Homo sapiens: one gene and its partner. The protein of the gene in region 1 interacts with the protein of each later gene in a pairwise test. Each region holds a gene or a part of one and is shown on either strand. Other genes may lie near its edges. The genes, in order: ALX1 and UROC1.

Region 1 (5,362 bases):
TGATAGCACTATAGTCAACCCTTAGCTCAAATAATGTTGTTGTTTAATCAGATCTAGATGGCCTAGAACAAAGATTTTATCTGCCAGCTTTTTCCTACAGCAATCAGATGATATGCAGTGTATGATATTCTGGTGTAAATGCTATGTATTGGTAAGGGTAAACGGTATTGATAAGCTCAGACATATCCAGAATAACATGATCTGAATGATACAGTGTCTAGAAACCAAGTCATATGAGGAATGGTTAAAAGCACTGGAGATGTTTACCTGGAGAAAAAGGATTTGGGGGTTGTATCATCATGCCCGATTACATTTTAAGATTTTTACATGTAAGAAAGATGATCTTATTCTACGTCATTATAGGGCACATAAATGGAAGCCATAGGTAGAGGTAGAGGAATATAACAGCTTACTTTTATAGAAAAGAAATGGAATTTTTTTTTAAACAGGTGAGCTTCTTATCACAAGAGGTAAACAAAATTGGTGTACAAAGAATTTTTCATTTGGAAGGAAGTTGGACTCCAGTAGTGTTTCCTAATTTCAATTGATTTTCAGAATTCCATGTGTGTATTTTATTACTATTATTTTAATACAGAGCCCCTGAGCCATACTAAATGAATCAGAGTCTCCAAGGATATGTATCTGTTGTGGAGAATCAGTGTTTAATAATAAAAATAAAGAACTTCCCAGGTAAATGCAGTTAGCAAGGTCTAGGAATGTAATTTTCATGATCACTGTTAAGATTATTGAGTATGGTGATTTGGGAGTTCATATTATGAAACAAAAATTTTGATATATTAACATAAATCATCCATAAAATTTTGATTATATCTGCAAGATGGATCAGTCCATATTTTTCAAGCACTTAATAACTTTGTATTAAGGACTTACCTTGTACCACATTAGACCTGAGGATGACAAAACAGTTGTGAGAAATAATTGTGGGTTTTTCTTTCAGAGAGTAGAGACTATGAACCTACACAAAGTAGGGATAATGAGTAAATAAATAATTTCAACTCATAAAACTAGTCATTATTACAGCATTTCTAAGGTTTCCTAGGTTGAGATTTGACCTCCACCATTGGAACTATGCAATCTTGGGTGATCTTCTTCAGCTCTGTTCTATAGTGTTACCATCCTCAAAAGGGGGATAGCAAAAGAACACGCTGTTTAGTGTACTGAAACAATTAAAAGTGTTCATAATATATTTAACATAATGCCTCACGCATGGTAATTAATTGGTAACCATTAGCTATAATGAACATGGTCTTGAGCATCATCATCAAATGTTTAAACACCCAGAGGGCAGGCTTCAGAGAAGTAAAATCACAATATACCGAGGATATTATCTTTTATGAGTTGCATCTAAATAAATTTACAATGTGGAAACCAACAATGTTTCTAAAGTCAAATAAAGATTTGCTGGAAATTTAAAAAAGGAAAGATCAGCAGTGGTGCTGGGGAGGGGGAAGAAATAGATATTTTGAAAACAAGATAGATCAGTAAAAATGTGTGAGGATATCTCTACCTATGGGAATAAATGACAATCTTCAAAATATTTAGGGTATCTTCACAAGCCCAACTAAAATATTGTTATCATATTTACTTTACCAGTCTGTTCTGCCCAGAAAAACATGTCTATATGTTAGAAATTATTTCATCAAAAGTAATGCATATAACGTGCTTGATCATGTCCAGATAAGAAGTTTTGATCAAAATAAAATTTGCTTTTTTATGTACTCTACAGAATATTTTTCAATTTATAGGTAGATTTATGTTAATTATGTTAGGGAGGCAATATTTTCTTAATTTATATCTATAGGTTACCTCCCTTGCCTTTACCTTTCTGATTTTAGCTTTTTCATCTAGTTGGTGAACATATTTCTGTGCATTTGGAATATGAATGAATGATTTTAATAAAAAATTCAAGAAACTGTATAAATCAAGCAATTCTTTAACAAACAAAATATAAATAATCCTTCTCTTTCATTATGTTGTCTTCCTTTTTTTTTTTTTAAGTAAGCAAGCAAAGTTCACTTTCATTTCTGAAAGCTCTTTTATCAGACATGTGACTATGGTTTTTGCCGAGTAGCACAATGTGTGTGATTGAATGTCAGAGGAAAATCACGCAGATGAAGTTAGAAGAGGTAGTTTGACAGAGTAATGACATTAGCAGCCCTCTTGTTGGTTTGATATACATAACTCAGCAATCACTGATACCAGTCATTATGTTTTGCCTAAAGTGGAACACATATAGTAGAATGAGCCAGAATTAGAACATAGCCTGAGACAATTTAAGGATTAACAAAATATGCAAATCATATATATATATAAAATATATATGTTTAGATATGGATATGTAGATTTCTCTCTTTGTCTCTTTCTACATATGTATATATTTAACAACTTTAAAGCAGCTTATACATATATTTATATAAAGAATTATTTTTTAAGACAACCCAGATATGTAAGCACCTTGCCAATCACTGAAACCCCACCTAAAGGTTGAAATTACTTATTAAGGTTTTTCTCTTACGTTTTGAACCTGGTTAATCAGTCCTTTCTTGAGTGACAGAGTACCTTTTTACCAGTGTGATCTAGAAGATTTATTAACATATTTTTTGCTCTTATTTGAAAATTAGTTGCCATAGAAAGTACAACTCAAGCATGGGTATTGTAAGACTACACCAGACCTTATATGTAGGTGCCTGGAATCTTTATGTAGAAACAAATATAGGAAGACATATGTGTCCTACTCATTGATGATTCTACTCTTACATCATGATTTTAAAAGATAAGGAAACCTGATGTGATTAACATGTGTATTGCTGCTATGTTCTAGTCCAAATGTATTATAATAATGTTGCTAAAAGCATTCAGTTTTATTTCATCTTCAAAGGGCTGCATCATAGTATTACTATCCCATGCAACATTTTCTTTTTTTACCTTCCCCAGCTCCTGCCATTTGTCATGATTTTCTCTGAGCTTCCCAGTAACGTATGGGGTTCCTGCTTTTGTTTGTTTAAATAGCTTGTATATTAAGATTGAGATATGTCCTACTTAAAATTCATGTTACATAAGGTCTATATCATGTTTCTTTTACATGCTAGTAACTTTAGATAAATTTGTACTTGTTAATATTGCATTGAATTGTTTCCTGTGGAGATTTAATAATACGAAGTGTGAATATCTCGGGTGTGAATGATAAAGCAGTTTCTACTCTATAGGAGTACTATATAACACAAGAGTAACTGCATTATACTCATCTGATGTTTTTGCTAAATAGTTGCACATCTTTCTCAGCTATGATTCCATTATTTGGTAAAGGCCCATGTTTTAAAATTCTAACTTTGTTTTACATGTCACATGTCTGTTTCAAATTCATTATATCATACATAAATCACAGAATAAATTTTTAAAATATGTATATTTACATATTTTGTAATTTCCCAGATTCTCAGAGCTGTTTCTTCAAGACTATAGGATACGAAAAAGCAATAGGAGGGCAAACATGTTCCAGAATAAGTTTGATCAAAAATATCTTTGCAGAACAGTCTATTGTCAGCAATGGTTTCCAACGAAAACTGCCACACCAGGAGTCCCAGTTAGAATTTTTTTTAAAAATGCATTTGTGTCATTTTGTTTAGAAAGACAAAAACTATCTTTAAACTTAAAACCAGATTTTAAACTACTTTTCTAATCGTATGAATTGGTCATGACTCAATCTTCCAGATTCATTTTTAAAATCATGACTATGAAAATAATACTTTTTTATAGGAGATAGACATGTTTGAGAGTACGTTATGTGGCCAAGAATGTGAGATTTGTTGCTCTATTTCAGTATAACAAACTAGAAGGATCTCTCAAGTAATTATTTTTTAGTCATTGTTGTATGTAATTACAGACCACCCAATAGGAGCAAACAATGAATAGTTAACCAAATTTAGTAAATACAACTTAACAAAAGTAAGAGAACAAAAGTGAGAACATGTAAATGTAATATTTGTTGTTTTATATATTCCAGATTCAGAACAATTTGTGGGCAGGAAATGCAAGTGGTGGTTCTGTGGTTACTTCATGCATGTTACCACGTGACACTTCCTCCTGTATGACACCTTATTCTCACTCGCCTCGGACAGATTCCAGTTACACGGGGTTTTCAAACCACCAGAACCAGTTCAGCCACGTGCCCCTCAACAATTTTTTCACTGACTCTCTTCTTACTGGGGCAACCAATGGACATGCATTTGAAACAAAGCCAGAGTTTGAAAGGAGGTCTTCCAGTATCGCAGTTCTTCGAATGAAAGCCAAGGAGCACACCGCCAATATTTCATGGGCCATGTAACATACAGTACTCTTTTATTTTTCTTTTAATAGCAAAGTTAAACATTCTTATTTCTCATATTTAAAGGATACCACAATAAGCTGCTGTGTGTGGAATTGCTAAAGGTCAAGATATTCAGTGAGACCAGCTTAAATGAATAGTTGTTATTTAACATTAAAATCTAAGAATGAACCTCTGAAAAGACTAAATAGGTTTACCATGTGCCAGTCTCCACAAACCCTGTTTTAGTAGTAAGGTTTTCTTTTTCTATTGTACAAGTCAATGAAATATGATCACGCAACTTATTAAAGAATAAATGTGTTAAACAAATTCTTCTGTTATAGATTGATTTATGTTACTTCTGTATAACAAGAAATCTCATGTAAAATAATACCTGATAAAGAAGGAAATGCACTGGGGAAAATGTCAAGATGCCAAAGTCGTCAGGTAAATATTGAATCAGGGTGTTCTGGGGAGTTAACTGCTCTCTCTCTCTCTCCAAAAAGCAGTGGGCAAAAACCCTGTTGCTGAGAATTTATTTTCAAGCCTCATTTTTGTTTTTGTTTTTACCCTTTGATGTTTTAGTGAATTTCCACTCTGTTAAACAAGGGATCTTTTAAAATAACCAACATTCGCATGAGATATTTGGGCATGGTTTCCTGAAGCCACATGGCTAAAGGTGATAACTGAAGTATTCTGGTGTGATTGAAAATATAGTCATGGGAGCGGACTTTATAAATGTCATTTTTCCAGTGAAGAAGCCAGCATAGACTCAATTACTTAATCATCACAAACAAGAAAAAATTTATAAACCTTGCTGTTGCTTTTAAACTAAGATCGTGTTGATTAAACTGTGCACATAAACCACTAATTAATACTACACTGAAAGTAACATTTTCTGTTAAAGCATCAGCGAGTTGGAATTTATATGTATTTTGTGGGTATGTGCATGCTTACATGCATGTGTGTTTGTTTCTCAACATATTATGCCTTAAGCATTTTTTGCTACTGTGGTTTTTGCATAGAGAATTAAAATGT
Region 2 (6,405 bases), on another chromosome or scaffold:
TGTGTGCACAGATCCATGCAGCAGGGTGCTTTCATGGAGATGTGGGGACAGACGATTCGTCCCTACACACTCTGTCCTGTCTCTCTCACTATCTCTGTCTTTCTCTCTTTCTCTGTCTCTTACTCTCTCTATCTCTCTCTTTCTCTGTCTCTTCCTCTCTGTATCTCTTTCTTTCTCTGTCTCTTCCTCTCTCTCTGTCTCTCTCTGTGACTCTCTGTCTGTCTCTGCCCCTCTCTGTAACACTCTCCCCTCTCTGTCTCTGTCCTTCTGTCTCTGCCCCTCTCTGTAACACTCTCCCCTCTCTGTCTCTGTCTTTCTGTCTCTGCCCCTCTCTGTAACACTCTCCCCTCTCTGTCTCTGCCATGGAAGGATGCAGTGAGAAGTTGGCCTCACCAGGAATTACGCCAGCTGGCACCTGGTCTTGGGCTTCCAGCCTGCAAATGTGTTTCATTTCTGTTGTTTGGGCCCCAGTGCCAGACATTATGTGGCAGCCGCCCTAGCTGACCAACCTGGTTGCTGTGTTTCCAGGCCCCACATCTTGGTTCTGGCAGGACGAAGGGGCGAAGGCAAAAAGCAACCCCGCTGGATCTGTCCATTTTATTAGAAAAACGACGGCTCTCAAGAAGCCCTGCCCCACAGACCCCACCCTCATCTCGTGGGCCAGGACTAGGCCAACAGTCCCTCCTAACAGCAAGGAAGGCTGGAGAATCAGGTGGTTTTATTTACCCTATATTGCTGCCCACACAAAACTAGGCTTTTGTTCACAAGGGAAAGGGGAGAATGGCTGCTGGGGAGGAGATGCGGAGTGCAGGGAGGGTGGGGACCAAGAACCCGGCTTGGTCCTGGAGAGGGCAGTGGCCTGCCCCTCTCCAATCCACCGACATGTGGGGTGTCTGGTTTTCTGTGGCCCTCAGAGGCCCACCCACAGACTCTTTCTCATTTCTCTGTTTAGGATGAGTTATCTGTTGGTCTGTTGCACGCCCAGCTAAGAGAATGAGATTCATGAGCCCTGGCCCTGACAGAGGCCACTTCCCCCATCCCGGTGACCTCTCACGAGGCTCTGGACCCAGTCATTACCGGGCTATGGGATTGGGGAAGGGGTGCCAGACTCCAGCCTCAGGGGCCAGCAAAGGGTCCCCTTTGCTGTACCCCTCAGGCTGTGCTGGCCTAGGGGGGTGCCCCTGCTCTCTCATTTCTTCCCCAGTAAGTGATCATTTATCCTTAGGGCAGACCCGGCCTGCCCGTCCCACCAGCCCACAGTGCAGCACACAGCTCTGTTGACCCTTTATTTCCTGGTCTATCCTCCTTCCCGAACTCCTCCAGGCCAGCAGCCCAGGGTGCCAGGGTCCAGAAGTTGCTTGCACAGACAGCAGATGGGCAGCAGACAGACAGAGTTGCATGGAGGCTGGCAGGTGGCCAGGAAGCAGAGGGTGTGATCATCCCAGCCGGAGAGAGCTTGACCAGTGTTCACCGCAGGGCCCCCGGGCAGGCTTGGGACTTGGCCCTAAATGGACTTTGACAGCCTTCAGGGCTCCCATGCAAGTGGCATGGTTGTGGACAGAGAGCTGCATGTCTCTGGGCCTCAGGGGGCTGTCTGTAAAATGAGGCTGTGGTGGCACCCTGCACAGGGCACCATAAGGGCCACGTGAGGATGTGCGAGAAGTGCAGGTAGTGCGGGTGTGCAGGAAGGGTGTGTGCCATGGCTGGGCAGGTGAGGATCGCCAGGGAGGAAGGGAGGCAGGGGCCGCGACTCCTGGCTCCCTCAGAGCTGCAGGGCCTGCTGGAGCACCCGCTCGTCCTCCACCTTGTGAGGCAGTGTCACCACCAAGGTGCTGTTCTCCTGCATGGTCTGGCAGATGATCTCATAGGCCTTCTGGTTCCCTGACCAGCAGCGCCGGGCCACCTAGGGCAAGGAGGGGGATAGCAGTCCATGTCAACATAACCGGGCTCCCCACGTGAGTCTTGGCTCCCACACTTGGGGCCTCTCTGCTTCGGGACCTCTGAGGCTGTCCGTGGGGACAGCTGCCCTTTTGTGTCTGCCCCATTTCCACCCCCAGCTTAGGCTCCCTGTCTCTGGCCCTCCTCTGGGATCTGAAACTGGCGGTCATCACACTCAGTCCTGCTCCCCCAGCTCCAAGAATGGCCTTGCCTCCTGAGTCCTCCGCAGCACCTCCCTCCCTTCTAGAATCCACCTCAGCCTGAGCTCTACCTTCACAATGTCCCTGCAGTCCTCTTTCTTCCCTCCACCTGGTCTCCCCTGGATGATGCCACGCCTCCTCCCCCATTCCCCTCTGCCATTCTTGCCACCCCCGCCTCCGCCTTCCACACAGTCACCACACCTGCCCCCAACCCACTTTTCCATGCCACAGCCGGGGCATCTCCTAGAACAAAACCTCTTGCTCTGGGATGAAGACCTCCATCCCCAGCTCCGCCAGAAGCCCTGCAGCTCCCGGTGAGATGGGGTGAGTCTCCTGCCAGCACCCTCTCTGTCCTCATGCTCACGCTCCGGGCCCAGCCCAGGGGCTTTCAGTCACCCAAGCTGTCTGAACTCCCGCCTTTGCTCCAAGCCTCCCCTCATTCTCTGGGTCCCACCTGTCTCCCCATCATCACCTGACCTGACCTCCATTTGAGCTGATTCCCCCTTCCTGGCTGCTGTGCTGTGGTCATGAGAGGAATCCGGCCCCCATCCCCACACCCAGGAGATGCTGTATGACAGCAAACGTGGATGGGGATCACCCAGCTGAAGGCCCTGCCTTCAGGAGGTGGCAAGGACTGGGCTGACTTACACCATTGGAGACATCCCAGCTGAGCATCAGCCTGGCTCTCCCCTCGGCCTCCGGGGTACCGTCCAGCACGAGGCCGAATCCCCCGTTGATCACCTCACCCCTGCAGGAGGCAGAGGAGTTTCCAGTTCATTCCTGGGGCCCAACACTGCACAGAGCAGGCAGAAGCCCATGTTTTGGAAGCATTGGCTTGAGACGGCGTCAGGGTTGGGGCCGCCACACCGCCAGCCTCTGCAACCTGGTGGATGCAGGAGTCGTGCAGGCAAGCACAGCTGGGAGCAGCGTGGTTACCTGCCACCTCTCTGCCCACTTGTGCCCCCTGTGCTGGGCCTGTCGGCCTCGTGCCCACTTCCACCACCCATTGGAGGTCATCCCTTGATGGAAACCTCCTGGGTACCCCCAGTGGGCTATAGCTGCCCCCTCCCTGCATTCTCAGAGTGCTGCCCTATAAAGCACACTCCCCTTGGTGTGTCTTGTATTACTCAATTCAGTCATCACTCTTTCTGGTTTTATCTTTAAAAAAAATATTTTTTTAGAGATGGTATCTCACTATGCTGCCCAGGATGACCATGAAATCCTGGCCTGAAGCAATCCTCTTGCTTCGACCTCCCAAAATGCTGGGATTATAGGCATGGGCCACTGTGCCCCCACCTGATTTTATCCTTATGATCTTTATCTTCCTTATCTCTTCTTTCTGCTTGCCTCAAGTGTATGGGGGGTCCTTCTGATTATTTGATCTGAAGGCTAAGTTCCTTTATTTTCAATATTTCTGGTTTTCTAATTAATGCATTTCTCTCCTTCTAACAGTTTTTGATATGTTCTTGGTTTCATTTGTTTCCTAGTAGATGAGTTGAACTTCATTAACTGTGTTGAAGCTCTGCTGCTGCTTCCATGCATGTGCACTGGAGCTGTTCCCCATCAGCCTGGGATGACCTTCCCCATCCTCAGCCATTCACCTACGAGCTGCTGCCCTTGAAGCATCCAGCCTTGGCTCCTGCTCAGTCTTCTCAGCTTTCAGTTACACAAGAAGCACCCTTAATTTTGTAAACGCCTGTCGTTGTGTTGTTGCAAATGTGTCCCTCCTGCCTCTTATTCCTCACTTGCAGTATATCTGTTCCTTTTTCTTCCAGCATGCAAAATGTGCATCTAGTTTCCCTTGTCTCAAATCCTTCAGGCCCATCCAGCTTTCCCTGCTTCTCTGCCCAGCCTGAATCCTACTGACCACAACCTCAGCCAGTTCTCACCAGGAAGCCAGTGAGAGGTGCCCTGTGCCCCTTGCAGCCACCTACACTCCCCATTCCTGGTCCCAGAAGCTGCACCCCTCCTGCAAGTGAGCCAGCTGTGCTGCCTACCACCCTGCACTTGCATCCCTGCACCTGGGCAGTCCATGGCCTGCAGTGGGTTGCCCTCACACCTCCCACCAGCCTCCAGGTGGGAGGTGCTCCAAGTCGATCTAAGGTCATTACCATTCATCTGTCAGAGGAGCAACAGCCATGCCCAGGCCTGAGCACTCCCAGTGTCCTGCAGCTAGAGAGGCCTCTTGGAGATTAGAACTACAGATTTTGTTTTAGAAGCCTGCATCCCAGAGGGTCAGAGACCAAGGCCGCTCAGCTTCAGGTGACCTTGGCAAACTGACCACAGAGGAACTCTGAACTTGCAGATCCCAGGAAAATGGGAACGCTAACACATTGCTATTAATGGTGAATTTGAGGTAACTCACAAATGGTGTTGGAACAACTAACTATACCTTTGAGAAAAACATGAAAGTAGAAAAACATAAATGCCAGATGTATTAAAGTGCATGATTCGATGAGTTAACATACATGAATAGTGTAGAAGGCCTTGCACATGTTAACACTCTACAAGCGTTCGCTATCATCAGCTCATTTCCTCTTCACCCCTAGCCTACAAGGCAGTTGTTATTATTATGCTTATTTTCTCATTGAGAAACAAAGGCACAGCAAGGCTACCCTGTGCAGGCAGATGGCCTGAGAACTGCTGTCAATCATGGCACTCCAGGGCTGTCCATCGGGGCATCATCCCCTGCACATGGGCAGAAGGCGTGTGGGTGGGTGGGGGAGGGCTGTGTGCACAGACAGGGCCCTGGAAGCCCTGGCTACTCAGAGAGGTCCTCGGGGCAGAGGATCAGCGTCACCAGGAGCTTGCTAGAAATGCTGAATCTCCATTCCACCCCACACCTGCTTTTTTTTCTTTGTTCCCCATTTATTTATTTATTTTTTTTTGGTAGAGAGGGTGTCTCACTATGTTTCCCAGGCTTTACTCAAACCTCCTGGGCTCAAGCAATCCTCCTGCCTTAGCCTTCTGAGTAGATGGGACTATAGGCGTGCACCACTAGGCCTGACTCAGACCTGGTGGTGCACGCCTATACAATAATCTGCATTTTAATGATATCCCCAGAGGATTTCTGTGCACATTCAAGTTTCAGATGCACTGTAAGACATTGTTTAGTGTGAAAAAGTGGCAGTATCCAGATATATAATAGATGGTGGATAGAACACAGCCATTTACCCCTGCCCCTCCTGCATCTCACCAACAAAACTGCAGAGGAATTATTTAACCCACAAGGATGAGGAGAAAGGGACAGGAGAATGGGTGATGGGATTCTGAAAGCTGGAGGCAGGCATCAGAAAGCTCCAGCGCAGTGTGGCCATGGGAGGGACCGGCAGAATCCATCGGCGCCCCAGGACCCAGGGAACCTCAGGAGCTGGTGGTCAGCACCAAGGGGCTCCGAAGGAGGGCAAGAGCAGAGGTAAAGTTGGAAACACCGGCTGGAAGCCTGCTCACCTGAGGTGGGCTCCCAGATGCCCACCCACCTGCTGCCTAGAGGCTGCCCGAGTGGGCCCTCGGTGGCCACTGGAACTGACCCTCTCACATGTGAGGCCGCAGCACCAACAGGGAGGCCTCACCCCTCTGACTGGGTCCTCCCAATAGGGAAAGGAGATCAGAAAAGTCTTTTCTGAGGTCCAACCAACCCAAGAACAAGAGCCTGGCTCTTGTCTTGATCTCTTGCACTCTGTGGCCCAGCCAGATGGCTCTGTCCTGCAGCCTGCGGTCCAAACGTCCACCTGAGCATGCAGGGCTGCAGCCAGCCAAGTAGTGCCCTGTTTAAACGTGAGCGCTGGGCAGATGGCACAAAGACAGACGGCAAATGGGCAATCAGGAAGAGGGGCTGCAGGAGACAGTGGCACAGAGGAGGCTAGAAACAACACACAGCTGTCACTGGTTGTCCTGGAGTGGAGCCAACAGACAAGTGGAAACATGGGAAGTTCGGTCCAGGAATGTGAGGGTGAGCGCACAGCCTGGAAACAGGGATCAATGCGCAGGAAAGAGAAACTGCTGCAGAGTTGCGGGGGGTGGGGCGTCCCCTTGGAGTAGCCACGGTGGGGATGGAATTGGGAGTGGCATCCCTTTCGAGTAGCCACGGTGGAGACAGAATTGGGAGTGGCGTCCCTTTGGAGTAGCCATGGTTGAGGGATAGACATTTTTTCCGATGGGTTAGATTATGTACATGTGTAAGTGTGATGGGTCCCAGGATGAATTTGTGGCACTTTCCCAAAACACCCCTCAAGGGCAGCAGGGTAAAAGGTTTTAGGTCCCAGTG

Evidence for each region.
Region 2: the proteins of ALX1 (region 1) and UROC1 interact in binary tests that used the Homo sapiens proteins (3 or more experiments, as listed by UniProt).

Annotation. Positions count from the first base shown.
Region 1 is NC_000012.12:85,297,131-85,302,492, forward strand, and holds the end of ALX1 (ALX homeobox protein 1), read left to right. Parts: intron 1-4,024; coding exon 4,025-4,345; 3' UTR 4,346-4,654; downstream 4,655-5,362. UniProt on the Homo sapiens protein: Sequence-specific DNA-binding transcription factor that binds palindromic sequences within promoters and may activate or repress the transcription of a subset of genes.
Region 2 is NC_000003.12:126,480,583-126,486,987, forward strand, and holds the end of UROC1 (urocanate hydratase), read right to left. Parts: intron 2,887-6,405; coding exon 2,787-2,886; intron 1,904-2,786; coding exon 1,763-1,903; 3' UTR 584-1,762; downstream 1-583.